2 linked regions of the Homo sapiens genome follow. The protein of the gene in region 1 purifies or fractionates together with the protein of each later gene. This does not show direct contact. Each region holds a gene or a part of one and is shown on either strand. Other genes may lie near its edges.

The links. Proteins that work in one complex are often made in the same cells at the same time.
Region 2: the proteins of DOCK3 (region 1) and ELMO2 purify together in Homo sapiens (affinity purification with mass spectrometry; 2 studies listed by BioGRID and IntAct, with this or other methods). This does not show direct contact.

What each region holds. Positions count from the first base shown.
Region 1 is NC_000003.12:51,356,920-51,363,943, reverse strand, and holds part of DOCK3 (dedicator of cytokinesis protein 3), read right to left. Parts: intron 6,983-7,024; coding exon 6,803-6,982; intron 6,187-6,802; coding exon 6,103-6,186; intron 5,984-6,102; coding exon 5,867-5,983; intron 3,434-5,866; coding exon 3,312-3,433; intron 2,086-3,311; coding exon 1,947-2,085; intron 1,418-1,946; coding exon 1,270-1,417; intron 1-1,269. UniProt on the Homo sapiens protein: Potential guanine nucleotide exchange factor (GEF). GEF proteins activate some small GTPases by exchanging bound GDP for free GTP.
Region 2 is NC_000020.11:46,396,616-46,403,639, forward strand, and holds part of ELMO2 (engulfment and cell motility protein 2), read right to left. Parts: intron 2,157-7,024; 5' UTR 2,082-2,156; intron 1,405-2,081; exon of another isoform or gene 1-1,404. UniProt on the Homo sapiens protein: Involved in cytoskeletal rearrangements required for phagocytosis of apoptotic cells and cell motility. Acts in association with DOCK1 and CRK. Was initially proposed to be required in complex with DOCK1 to activate Rac Rho small GTPases.

The sequences.
Region 1 (7,024 bases):
TTTACTGCGGCACTATTCACAATAGCAAAGACTTGGAACCAACCCAAGTGTCCATCAATGACAGACTGGATTAAGAAAATGTGGCACATATACACCATGGAATACTATGCTGCCATAAAAAAGGATGAGTTCATGTCCTTTGTAGGGATATGGATGAAGCTGGAATCCATCATTCTGAGCAAACTATTGCAAGGACAGAAAACCAAACACTGCATGTTCTCACTCATAGGTGAGAACTGAACAATGAGAACACTTGGACACAGGGTGGGGAACATCACACACTGGGGCCTGTTGTCAGGTGGGGGAAGTGGGGAGGGATAGCATTAGGAGATATACCTAATGTAAATGACGAGTTAACGGGTGCAGCACACCAACATGGCACATGTATACATAGTAACAAACCTGCACGTTGTGCACATGTACCATAGAACTTAAAGTATAATAAAATAAATAAATAAATTTGTGATATTTTTCTTTGGTTTCATAATAATGAGAAGAACAAAGAGACTCCCTCCTTCTGAAGCCTGGAAGCAAGAGCAAGTGACTGGCTGGCAAGCTCAGACCACTGTCACTACCCTGCAAAGCCAACCCTGGGAAGCACTAGATCCTATGTACCACAGCTAATTTCCATTCCACTGCAAATGTTTCTGTCTACAAGGACAGAATCAACTTTCACTTGGGAACTAGGATTAGAACGTGAAAAAGATGCGAAGATGCTGCCTCTCAAAGAACAATATTCATTCAACTGAACAAGAAATCAACTAATAATTGGCAAAGTAAATAGGTTTTTACAGAGCCATCTCTCCTGAGAAAGCCTTTCCCAACTGAAGAAAAATTTTTTGGTTGCTGTTATTGTTTTAGAATAACATTTTCCAGGGTTAATTTTAGTCTCCCGATTTACTTTTCATACTTTGTCATCATGCCTGATTCCTCAAGACAAAAGACTCACTTTTGCCTAGACTTTGATCTTTGTTCTAGCAAAACTTTCAATGGGAAAGAAGTGAGCTTTCTTCTAAGCTGTGTGTCCTGTGACTGAGGTAGAAATGCAATGGCGGCACAGCGGCAGCCACTGCTCAGAGCGGAGTCTGAAGCCAGCCAGGGAAGAGGCCTGGAGGCAGGAACTCTCGAGTCCTTAGTGGTAAAAGCACAAATGAGTATTCTCTAAGTCACAGGGCTGCTCAAAGACACAGCCACAGATGAGAGGAAGCCGAGTGGCGTTGATGAAGACCTCTCTTCTCCATTCTGCAAGTAGCACCCTGCCATCCTTACCTCGGGCACTGGAAGGGGCAGAGGTAATCATCTGGGATGGTGCTGAGTGAGTGGAACTCAGGCTGGAGGAAGAAGGGCTTGCCTGGGACGAGGACAGAACAGAGACGTTGGTGACTGAGCCTTGGTACCTGGGGTTGGGATACGCGAGCTGCAAAGGGAGAAAAATCAGCAGGATAGAGGTCTGAATGGCCAGGACTTTAGGGCTGGCACAGAGTTTGCTTTTTCATGCCCTGAGGTGTTCTGCCCCAGTGCCTTATGCTATCCCCTGAGCCCTGATGGAGGCCAGGCTAATGGCTGGGCAACTAGGGGCCACCCACACCACCCATATGGAGCGAAGTTGTTGGGCTGGCCATACTACGGTGACCATGGAGGAAGCAGGGCTAAGCCAACAGGAATGCCAGGCAAGGGGGCAATCTGGCAGAGGATCTTTCCCGTGGGATCTCCTAAAGCAACCAGGACTGAAGCTGGATTTTCTTCTTGGGAAATAAGGCCTGGGAACCGAGACTTAGGATGGTGTGTGGAGGAACGGCAGCTTTCTAGCTCTGGTGAGGGGTGTTCTGAATTCAGGAGCTAGAGAATTAGGCAGGGTTGCCAAGCCCTCAGACTAGACATTGCAACAGCAAGGTGAGTTCTGTAGGCATGGTGCCCTGGCCCACTCTCCGTGGACAGCTCTGTACCTGCATGTGGTGGTACAGGTCCTCAGGAGCATCACCCATGGAGCCGTCACCCAGCATCACCATGTTTCCTGCTTCACTAGACGCATGTGAGGAGAGAGAGGATGATGAATGGCGGCCTGTGCCCATCAAGTTCATGGGGCTGTGAGCAAGAGTGGGAAATAGGGAGGAGTCAGGCCCATGGCAGGTGGCAGGGGGACAGTAGAGCGGAATGTGTGGAATAGTCATCCCTGGTTTCAGCTACCACCGGTTTGGAGGGTTCCATAGTCAATGCTCATACCCATCTGAGGCCTGGAGCAGTCCTGAGCTGTACCCTGCTACTCAGGAGCCCTTGGTCTGGGAGAGACAATGGTGTGGTACACTGGACAAGCCTCTACCTACAGCTACATGGCTTATGGCCACTCAGTTGCATGACATTAGCAGTTTCTCAGGAGGAATAAGAGATATGCCAAATCAGGTCAAAGACCTCAGGTTCCCCTTTCTATGGGGTATTAGTCTGGGTCAGTGCCCACCCCCCAACCCCCCCACACCATGATGGGATCTGCTTCTTGGTCAGAGGCTTCTTCCTAGTGTGGGAAGCTACCAAAATAGCCGGCTGTGAACTATCTGCAGGCCTCCTTCCACATCTGTGGCCAAAAGGCTTGTCAATAGCTCTCCTCTAGCAATACCAGGAAAGCTTCTCATTCATTTGTCCCTTATTTACTAAGTGCCCACTCTGTGCTGAGCTGCTGCTCACACTGGAAAACAAGCCTAAGTGAGGGGCTCCTCTCACTAGTCTCCTCCTCCAACTTGGCCTTCCTGGCCTAGAGGCTTTCAGTATTCTCAGTTGAGCCCAGGCAAACCAGTCTTTGATGTTCACATCACTATGCTGTTTCTTCCTTAAAACTGACTTGGTGATCCTCATTCTCCTTGGGATCAAGTCCAAAGGCCTGCATGAACAAGGCCCACTCAGAGCTGATCCTATCCCCTTTCCGTGCCCTGGAATCCGGCACTCCAGCCACTTGGCTCTACTCAGAGTGCTGACCAGGCTGGCTTGTTCATATCTTGAGGCTTCTGCATGTGTCAGTCGATTTTCCTAGATCTTGCCCTATCACCCTCCTAACCCCTAGCAAACATCTACTTATCCTTCAAGACTTACCCCAAATGCCCCCTCCTCCATGTTCCCACAGTATCATGTATACACTTCTCTTACCCAGGATAGTGACTGACTGAATGCAGGGTGTGGGTCCTATGGCAGGAGCCACATAAGTGTTTGCTGTGTGCATGGGTAAGAGGGAATATGAGTATACATGAGGACTCTTTCCTCTGACCCTTGACAATTTAGACTCACCTCTCCAGAGGGAACCCTCCCCAGCCCTAAGGCCATACCTGTGCCGGTGGGTCATCTTGATGCTCTCCGGACTCATGGGGCTATGGGATGCCAGAACATTTCCCCGTGGGGTGCTGGTGCCTGAACATGCAGGACTTAGCTTATCCAAACCTGGAAACTCCTGTTGAGAAATGAATGCCCCTTCATAGAGAGTAAAGAATAAATAAGTAACTAAGGGATGTGAGGGAATAACTGACTGGTGATCAAAAATGTAAAAGAAACAAAAAAGAATCATATGGTTGGCTGAACCTGAACTGCTGACTTCCTTTGGGCAATGCCCTCTTCACGACTAAAACACCCTCCTAACTGCACTGGAACCTAGACCAAAGGCCGTGTGCGAGGCCCCAGGTTGACTCCACATTAAGAGAAGCACATCTGGAATAAACTGAAGCTGGTCTGAGCTCATAGGAGTGTGTTAACAGGTTTTCTCGCTACGGAATAAGTAGAACAAGATCTGGGAAGAAGGAGAGGAAGAGCTTATTATTAGTTGTCAATAGGTGGGCACCAATTACATAAGGATTGGTGTTGGGTTTTATTAGACTGCTAAATGGCCCAGCTCTTAGTGACCTGGGTTGTCTGTGACACAGTCTACGGGGAGACAGAACATAAAATCCTGATGTATGTAACTGAAAAATAGCACAGCTCTATTTTAGCTTAATTAATTCATATTAAGTATGTAGATTTCTGGGCAGACACTTCTGATCTCAAACCCTACTGGGTGACAGCATGTTTGTTTGTGTCCCTGTGTACAACTCAGAGGAAACAACTGTTAAGGTTTCCTCACGTCCTTCAAAAGCTGTAGTGAACAGGGGCCCTAAGTCCACTGGGGATATTTCTGAGCTTGGTGTGAAGAAGCACCGGGTTTTCCACCTGCTTCTTCCAAAGCATACAGAGGGCTAAAATGTATTTCTGTAGCTGGAGAAAGGCTATGTGTGCACACGGAAGAACGTGATGTATATAGGAAAGTGTTTTGTGCTTTTTGCTGCAACCCACATGGCAGAGAACCTCCTCACTGGCCAGGCTCCAGCCTGCTTGGGTCACCTGCTGTGATGGGGAAGTTTGCACACAGCAGAGACCAGTCAAACAGGCAGGAGACCCTGGAATGAGAGGTAGTGGAATGAATACCCACCAGACTCAGCGATACTGCCCAAGTTCTTAACTAAATGGACACTCCAATTTTAAGGCGGAGATGTAAAAGAGCTTCTCTGCATATTTCACCTTGAAATACCATGGGAGAATCCTAACAGAGGGAGAAATTTCAGGATCTCCAGGCTTTCCTCTGGAAAATGTGCCCCTACCTCTCAAACTACAACAAGCTTCTTTTTCTCTTTTCATGCTGTCCACACTTGTCCACACAGGCTGAGACCTGCACTGGGAGCCTGGAGGGACGGAGATGACCAGAACCTGCAGCATCCAAGAACACAGCAGGTCCGCCCCAAATGGGTCAGGCCCACTGAGTTTAAGTAGTGCAACCTCCCTCAGGGCTCCTGTGGCCATGGTTATCCCTAGAGGGGGAATTTTTTGCTCATGACAACCTCGTGCAGCATTGAACAGCTCTACTTCTTGTCTCCCTGCCACTTCTGTCCAGTGGTCCTGGGTGATGAGAAGAGAACTTGGCTTGGGTGCCAGGTAGCAGCAGGTAATTGGGCTCATATCCCTTAAGATCTGGGAGCCAGCCTGTTTAGCAGGAAGGGATCTTTAGAAAACATTTGGAGTCAGCCCCACAGTTGAAAATGAGGTTTGGATATGTGAATAGGGGGCTCTATCCTCAGCCAGTCAGCATTTCCTCTAAGACCCTGCCAAGGAATACTGGTCCTGGAATATAAGTCCTGTTTGTGTGTTTAAGTCCTTGGGCCAAACCCTACTGTGGAGGCTGAAGAGCTGGGCCAGAGTTAGGGAGACTTTCAGGAGCCTGGTCCAGCCCCAGGACCTGCTTGACTCCTTTAAGGACTGCTAGCATGAAAGTACTGCTCATCCTAGGCTATCTCAGATGTGAGCTTGGATCACGAGACATGATAGAGGAAGCTGGGAATAAGAGGGAGGGAGAGACAGAGGGAGAAAAGGGAGTTGGGAGGAAGAGTAAAAAGAGGGAAAAGAGAACGATTAGAGGGAGGAGAAAGAATGAAGAAGGACAGGGAGAGAGGAGGAGGAGGGAGATGGGGAGAGAAGGCTGGCTCAGGCCATGCCTATCTCTTTAGGTTCTTGGGATGAAAAACATCTCCAAAAAGATCCCTACATGTGGGCCATATATGTTAGCTCTCTTCCTTCACATATGAAAACCTGTCTACTAGCACAGTGCCCTGAAAAACGTTCCCTGCCCTTGAATCTGGCTCCTCCTTTGGGAGTGAGTGAGTGGGAGGATCCTCAGCATCCTTCCCCTGGATATAGCATCCATCCTTGCCCCCTGTCCCTCTGTAGGGAGGACAGCCTCTCTCCCCAACCCCGGCCCCTGCCCAGGCTCCCTCTCTCCTATTTTCCTTTGGTTTGTGGCGTAGGTCTGGAGGAAGTGACACCTGGTTCTACTGCAGCAGGGGCAGGACAGGGATCAACTTACATGGTAGAGACTGGCCCGCATCATCTGGAACTGATCAATTAGCTTCTTATGCAGAGGCCGCATTTCTGGGTGCACAAACTTCTCATGAACTGCTAGCCCAACTCCAAGGACATGAACCTATCAGAGTCACAAACAAGGCCACTCTGTGAACCATGAGTAGCCCCTGAGAACTGCTCATCTTGTAGTGCATGGCTTTTCTCACCTGGCTGCTGGTTCCCAAGCCCTCCAAGACATACCTGCTCCTGCATAAGCTCCTTGAGCTGGGTGATCTTCTCAGCATCTCCTGGGTGCTTGTTGATGTAATCTTTATCAAAGAAGGCCTGTGAAAGGAAAGGCCAAGTCAGGAAGACTCTTCCCAGGACTACTACTTAAGTGGGGCCCAGGAGACTTGAGTCCACTAATGCCACCTAAAAAGCAGCCAGGCTGTCTCCTCATAGGTACATACACCAGTCTGGCCTGTTTGAACTTCTGGCAATTAGAGGTGTGTTTTTTTGTCTGAGAAGGACTGAACGTGGCCAAGCCATCTAAGTCTGGATGCTGACCCCAGTCCCTCATGGAGCCTGGATGGCCTAGGTAGGGCAGGCAGGACTGGTGGACTGGGAGTAGGGGCTAGCCTCTTATCCAGCCTACAACTCACTTCTCCTGACGGGCTGGGCTCCAAGGCTCCTCTTGGAGGGCACTTAACATCCTCCCATAATCAGGATTACAGATTACCCATCTTAGAGTTCAGAGAATAAAAATGAAGAAAAGGCCCTACCAAACTGTGCCAAAGAAATAGGGAGTGATAGGGAGCTTAGGGCCTCATTCCAGGACCATGTCAAGAGAGGGCATGTAGGGAAGGCTACCTAAGGAGACTATAATCTTGAAAAGAGAAGCCTGTGAGCCGCCTTCCTGGCCAGGCTGGCTGCATGGGTTTGGCCTGTGGCCACAGCTTACCTCCTGATAGCGTGCAATGCCTCCATTGACAGCTGCATCAATGACACCATTCAGGCACATGCTTAGCAGGTTAATGTTGCCATGCACCTGCTTGTGTTGATACTGGCTGATCAGGGAGCGTAGCTCCTGGTTCTTATTCTCAACCACTTGGATGGCATTCTCCAGAGGGCTCACCTCCACCTAGGGGCACACAGCACACAGAGTCATCCCAGAAATGATGAT
Region 2 (7,024 bases), on another chromosome or scaffold:
AACTATACGATATGACTTTTTAGATCATTTGTTTAGTTTGGCTTCTTCTTATTTTTAAAATAAGCAGGCACAGAAGGTACAACAGAAAGAACACTGGGCTGGGATAATTGTCCCTGCTGAAACAAGTGACTGGATTTAGAACCAAAGGCCTCAGGACCCAATCCTAGGTCTTTCACAATGTATACATGGCCCTTTAACCAAATCTCAGTTTTCTTCTATTGAAAGATGTGAGTGTAGAACTAAAGCATGTCTCAGGTGCCTTCTAAGTCTAAAAGTCCATGATTCTTAAGTGGAATTTAAAAAATCCAAGTGAGGATGCCCATTTTAAAGTCCTTACCAAATGAAGTTACACCCTTCCTTAATTTCGATGGTGCTGCTAAGAAACAAACCCCATGATTTTTAACTCCTTTCTGAACGCCGTCTTTGGAGATTAAGCTAAAGCTCATTAGGTTATAGCTATTATTTTCTCTTGACCCCATATGACATATCCTAGATTGACTCTCTCTTTATTAAAGTTAGCCCTGAATGATTCTCGGCTGTTCAAAAATTCGTATACATTTTAAAGCATGGAGATTTGCAACCACCAAACTATTTGAAAGATATTAATAAGCCCCCATTCTCAGTGACTCTGTCCTTCCCACAAAGCCCAGGCAGCCTCTCTGAACTGAATGACACTCTCCACAACCCTGCCATAGCTGATGGGACTAAAGTGAATACCCAACTTTAGCTGAACTATTCCAGTTCTTTCTCTTGAATTTAAAAGACAGAGACTGGCTGGGCGTGGTGGCTCATGTCTATAATCGCAGCACTTTGGGAGGCCAAGGTGGGTGGATCGCCTGAGGTCAGGAGTTTGAGACCACCCTGGCCAACATGGCAAAACCCCGTCTCTAGTAAAAATACAAAAAGTAGCCAGGCATGATGGTGGGCGCCTGTAATCCCAACTACTCGGGAGACTGAGGCAGGGAGGACAGCTTGAACCCAGGAGGCGGAGGTTTCAGTGAGCACAGATTGCACCATTACGCTCCAGCCTGGGCGACGGAATGAGACTCCATCATAAATAAATACACACATACATACATACAAACAAATAAAAGACACAGACTAAGGGAACTGGGTGATAATGACCCTGGAGAAGTAAGATCATAGTAAGCTTCAGAGCGAATACCATGGCAAGCCAAAGATCCGTACGAGCCAAAGATATGGAGAATAAAAAACCAAGAGCCTTTCAGAGGAAGTGATTCTGCAGGAGGAATCCATAAATATCTAAATGAACTGAGGCCAGAAATCAGAAAGAGATGGAAAAGCCATTACCTGCTAACTTTCCAGATTATGTGGCTATTACTTCCTATGCTCGGGGTACCTGAAAGTCCACTGTATCCTGCCAATAAAACTCCTATAAATTAAGCTAGTCTATGTTTCTACTCATTGCAACTAATACGCCTAAGACCACAGCTGCCCCCAAGCTCTGCAGGAACTCTAAAACGGAGGTCTGAGCAGACAGCAGCATCACTAGCATATGATGATGGTACTGGGTAAGCACTTAATTAACAATGGCTGAATTAATGAGAGCAAAACCCATGGGTTTGCTCTTACCCACTAGATAAGTCTGATTTGTTTGAAACAGATCGGTTATATGGTAACTTCATAGTAATCATATATCTAGTAGTAACGTACAGGTAGCCTCTTTATTTTTATTTTTTTAAATTTTTTTTAAAAGATGGAGTCTTGCTCTTGTCGCCTAGGCTGAAGTGCAATGGCATGATTTCAGCTCACTTCAACCTCTGTCTCCTGGGTTCAAGCGATTCTCCTGCCTCAGCTTCCTGAGTAGCTGGAATTACAGATACTCACCACCACGCCCAGCTAATTTTTGTATTTTTAGTAGAGACGGGGTTTCACCATGTTGGCCAGGCTGGTCTTGAACTCCTGACCTCAGGTGATCCATCTGCCTCGGCCTCTCAAAGTGCTGGGATTACAGGCGTGAGCCACTGTGCCCAGCCCAGGTAGCCTCTTTATAGTTGATTGCTCACTTCTATATCATTATTATAGTTGATGCTCATAAGAACTCTGAAAAACATTCCTACCTTACAGGTAAGGCAACTGAAGTTCAGACGGATTGACAAACTTGTTCTCCATGTACCTCTTTCTACACCTCCCTCCTAAAAGAAGGAAGGAAAGAAAAAAAATGAAGGGAGGGAAAAGAAATAAAACTAAATCAACCCAACACATCAGAACTGGGTCTCAAGCCTAGGTCTTAGGACTCCAAAGCGAGTTCTCATCGCTCTATATAATACTTCCTTAGATGATGACATTAGCTAGCAATTACATAATGCTAAGGCACTATTTTAAGGGCTTTACATATATTAATTCATTTAATCCACACAGCAATGCTGTGTGGTATGTTATTATCCCCACCTTAGAGATAAGAAAATGGAGGCACAGAGGAGTTAAGTAGAAGGCTCAGTGTCACATAGCTAGCAAGTGGCACAGCCAGAATTTGATACCAGGTTGTCTGGTGTTGCTGGAAAGCCATGAGAAAGCAGGTGGCTCTGCACCTGACCCGCAGCAGGTGCTTTGTGGAGATTTCTGGTTTGTGTATCTGAAACCAAAGCACACTGAGGCTAAGAAACCTTCACAGCAAGAACTCACCATTGTAACAGAAGACAGCTCTCCACTGTCTACAGGTGGGCCACACTCCCTCGTGTGCTATTTGGTCCTTTACAATCTAGCCATCCTGGACTACGGGCTATTTCTATAAGGCAGGCCATGTTCTTTCAATTCTTCTGTACCTTTGCACATTCTCTTCCTCCTACTGACTGTCAGAAGAGCTCCTATTCAAGCATCAGAGCCTAGTTCGGATGTTACCTCCTCCTTGTACTAGTCTTAGCTTTCTCTACTTTCCCTGGCAAAAGTAAATAGGACAGGGGCCTCTGTGTTCTCACAGCATCCTGTTCATACTTCCGTTAATGAGTACGATTTTGTCATACTCTATTACAGTTACATATTTACACATCTCCACTAGCTCCTCCTCCAGAACAGGTATAACTCTGCAGTCTCATAACCTAGCACAGCACTTGGTGTCCAGTGAAGGCTCAGTAAGCACCTGTGTCTGCTTAAACCCAATGGCTCTGATTTCTTCCACTCCTGTGAACCAGGCTGGCTCCAAACAGACAGGGACAGGCATGAACTGTGCAGGCTGTCTGGTGTTCCCTCTGCGTCCCAATACCCTCTAACTACACAGTATTTCCATTGTTTAACAGTTTGTTTTGGCTGGGCGCAGTGGCTCACACCTGTAATCCCAATGCTTTGGGAGGTCAAGGCAGGAGGATCACTTCAGGCCAGGAGTTCGAGACATTTCTCTACAAAAAATAAAAATTAGCTGGGCATGGTGGCGTGTGCCTGTAGTCCCTAGCTACTCAGGAGGCTGAGGCAGGAGAGTTGCTTGAGCCCAGGAGTTCGAGGCTGCAGTGAACTATGATCATGTCACTGAACTCTAGCCTGGGTGACAAAGTGAGATCCTGTCTCTATTAAAAAATAAAAATAAAATAAAAAACTGTTGTTTTCATATCAAACATTAGAATAAGTCTTACTGAAAAATCAGGGTTAGCACCCCTAACTCTAGTTGAAAGAAAGAGGAAAACCTCCCTCTGCTTTTCTCCCTATCGAAAAGAAACATCAGGAGATAGGAGACTAGAAATAATTCTGTTCTCCAGATAATATTCCCAGGATAAAGGATCTCCTTATAGGGAACCCTTCCAGCACGTGTTTGCTTACTCCCTTCATTTTCATTCTAGAAAGGAAGTAGAAATTAGGTCAAAGGAATTCAGTAACATTGCAAAATTCTCAGGGTTATAAATAGCCTCTTGCTCCGCCACTCAGCAGTACTGTAGCTCAATTGCAAACCACCAGCATAAGGGAGCTGTAGTTCCATATCCAGGCCCAGAGGGCCCCTTCCGGATTAAACAACTCCCCACCCTTCTACCTTCCACTCCTCTTTAAGCATTACAGATATAAGGATGATTTGGAAAACTCAAAATGCTACAAAACAGGAGACAGGCACACACTGACCTGATGACAATTTTACTATAAGTCATAAGAATGAAAGGCCAGTTTTTCAAACACAGAGCTGGGAAAAGTAGAGAAAAATAGGAACATTAGTGTCTCCAATGGAGCAGTCTCTAAGTGGCTTCTAGAAGGTGTGCTTATAAAATCAGCACTGTTACAGAAGCCCCATGGAGCTTTATCAATCACCCATGCAGTGACTGCTGCTTCACGGAGCTGGATTCTGAGAGCAGGATTGGAAACCGAATCTTAAGGAATGAAGTGAAAGATGATCTCCTCCTATTAGTAAGGAATTTGGGATGAAGAATGCCAGGTTTCCAGCTCCCCTCCTTCCCCCTATTCCTTTCAGGATAAGAACGGATGTGTACTTTTTGTTCAGTTATTTGGCTTTTGATTTGGTGAAGGAGGCATGGGTAAGTTTGGTTTATGTTTCCTGCAACAGAATGCAACCTCATCAAGAAGGCAAGTTGGAGTCACGCCCTTTCTAATCGAGAACACAATCTCTATAAAGGCTTCCCCCTCTGAAATCTTCTCATCTGAGAAGTGATTCAACTTCCCTTAGTTCAGTCCACTGAATGACGATCAGACTCTGAGGTACAGAAAAGGGAGGATTTGACTGGCAGAGATTAAGGTTCTTATGTTTACTGCTGGAAGCCCTGGGAAGGACCACCATACCAACAGCAGCTGAGGTTTCCCCTTTTTGTTGAAGTATGTTAGACACAGGACTCATTCACACATGGTAAAAAGCCACAAACTTACATAGAGGCAAAGGTGTGGTGAGAAGGGGTGTGGGGGCAGGGGAACTATTTGGGTTTCTTCATCTTGATTCCTGCTGTAAGAATGGCCTGGGTCTTCTCTTATCCTGCACAGACACCTTCTGTAGTGTTCCTATACTTAAAGAATAGTGCTTAAGTAAGCTCCTTAGCAGAGCATTCAACTTACTCCAGTTCCACCGTGGCTCTGTGGTGGAACTGGCTTTCAGATTCGCTTTTGCAGATGCCATGTTCTCACCAGACCACCTGTTCCCTGAAAAACCATGCTCTTCTGAGTCTGTATGTTTGCTTGTGCTATTATTTCCTCTTCCTTGTCCAGCTGGCAAACTTCAACTCAACCTTCAAGGCCCAGCTAAGATAATCACTCTTCTATGTGGCTTTCCTAATCCTCTCACCTCAGGGAAAATTAATTGCAGCCTCATCTGTGATCCCAGTCTTCTGTACATACCTTCCTGATCCTACTGATTTATAATTCTCTATGTGCAGTCTCTTCCCTGGCTACGATAGGTGTGATGTGCATACCAGCAGCGGCAGTATCCCTGGGAGCCCAGACCCACCCAATCAGAATCTGCCTTCAAACAAGATCCTGAGGTGGTTCAAGTGCATGTTCAAGTCTGGGACATAGGCTCTAGATCAGATAAGGTCCGAGAAACAGTGGTTCTCAACTCTGGTTGTGCACCATCAACACACACCCCAGGTCATTTATAAACTCTCAGATGCTCAGGGTTGACCCACAGCTCCAGGAGAGTTGACAACCTGAGGGCAAGGACTCATGAAGCCTAAGTCTATTCCCCCATCTACTCTTCCCCCAGTTTGCAGCACACTGCCTGCCACATAGCTGTGTCCACAGAATTCCACAGGAAAATTCCCTCCAGGGTGCCTCCAGACCTAAATGCCTTCAGAAGAGAGTGAAAACACTACTGACTGAGGATTATTAATTGCCTAGAACTTTCCAAATCCCTAACCACAATGACTGAAGAGATGAATTTACAAAAAGTCAGTGTTTACAAACCACTTACCTCAGTTTTTGGAAATGAGAGGAAACAGAAACTGAGATGGAAAATACAGATGAACTTCAGAATTAAACTTTAGAAAACCGTGATTGCACAAGGAGATGGAGCTTGGGTAGGGAGGGAGTGTGGTGTGCTGGGAAGAGTCCTGGGTTACAACTAAAATCTCGGGCTGTGAACTCCTTCAATACTGACCATAACAGCACAGCATTGTTCTCAGTGTAAAATCAGGCCAAGCCCTTTCATTACATAAATAAGGGAACTGAAGTCCAGAGAAGCTGGCAAGGCCATGCCACCAGTTAGGGACAAAAGAAGGCCTAGGCCCCCACTTCTGGTTTAGTCCTCCTCCTGCAGCACAGCTTTGCCACAAACACAAGCCTTTCTGGACCTCAGGTCCTGATCTACATCGGGGGCTGGACTAGATGTTTTTGAGCTTTCTTCCAACTTTGGCCTTCTAGTGAGGAAGTGTAGCTTAACAAGTTAGGAGCTGTGTTCTGGAGTGGGAAAGGCCTGAACTTGGATCTTAGCACTAACGATTTTCTTACCTGTAAAATGGGGATTAGCATCAACTCTACCCCGTAAAGCTGTTGTGAGCATCAAGTGGGATAATAAAGCACTAAGCATAATAGCAGAATTCTAACCGTGTGAACCTGAAGAAACTGCAAAAGCTCTGAAACCACGTTTCCCCAACACAGTAAGCCCTACCTGCTAGGCAGGTATGTTGTGTATTGTTGACAAAATAAGAGAGCATATGTGAAGGCAGTCCGGGAGGAAAGTCAATACAAAAGGCAAAGCATTTGTTGGTGTTCCACTATTATTATTACTATTTCCCAGTGGAAGAACTTTGGAAAATGTTATGATCAGTTCCAAAGCAGCAGCTAATACAATGCCTGGCAAATAAGAAGTGCTCAACAAATATTTTCTAGTGACTCACATGAAACCAGCATAGCATGCCTAATAGGGTTATAAATTCAAATGTCTTGGGCAGCCAAGCAGGTAAGTAAATAAAACAAGCAGCCTCCATGTAGGGTCTGTAACACTGCAAAGTACCACCTTGCCTAGAGGAGTTTAAATCCAACATTTTTAAAAACACATCATGCAGCTTGGCCAAGACAGCCACTTTGCAGCCTCCAGCCCATACTGATTCTGGCTCTTCATTACACCTCATGATGCCTTGCATAC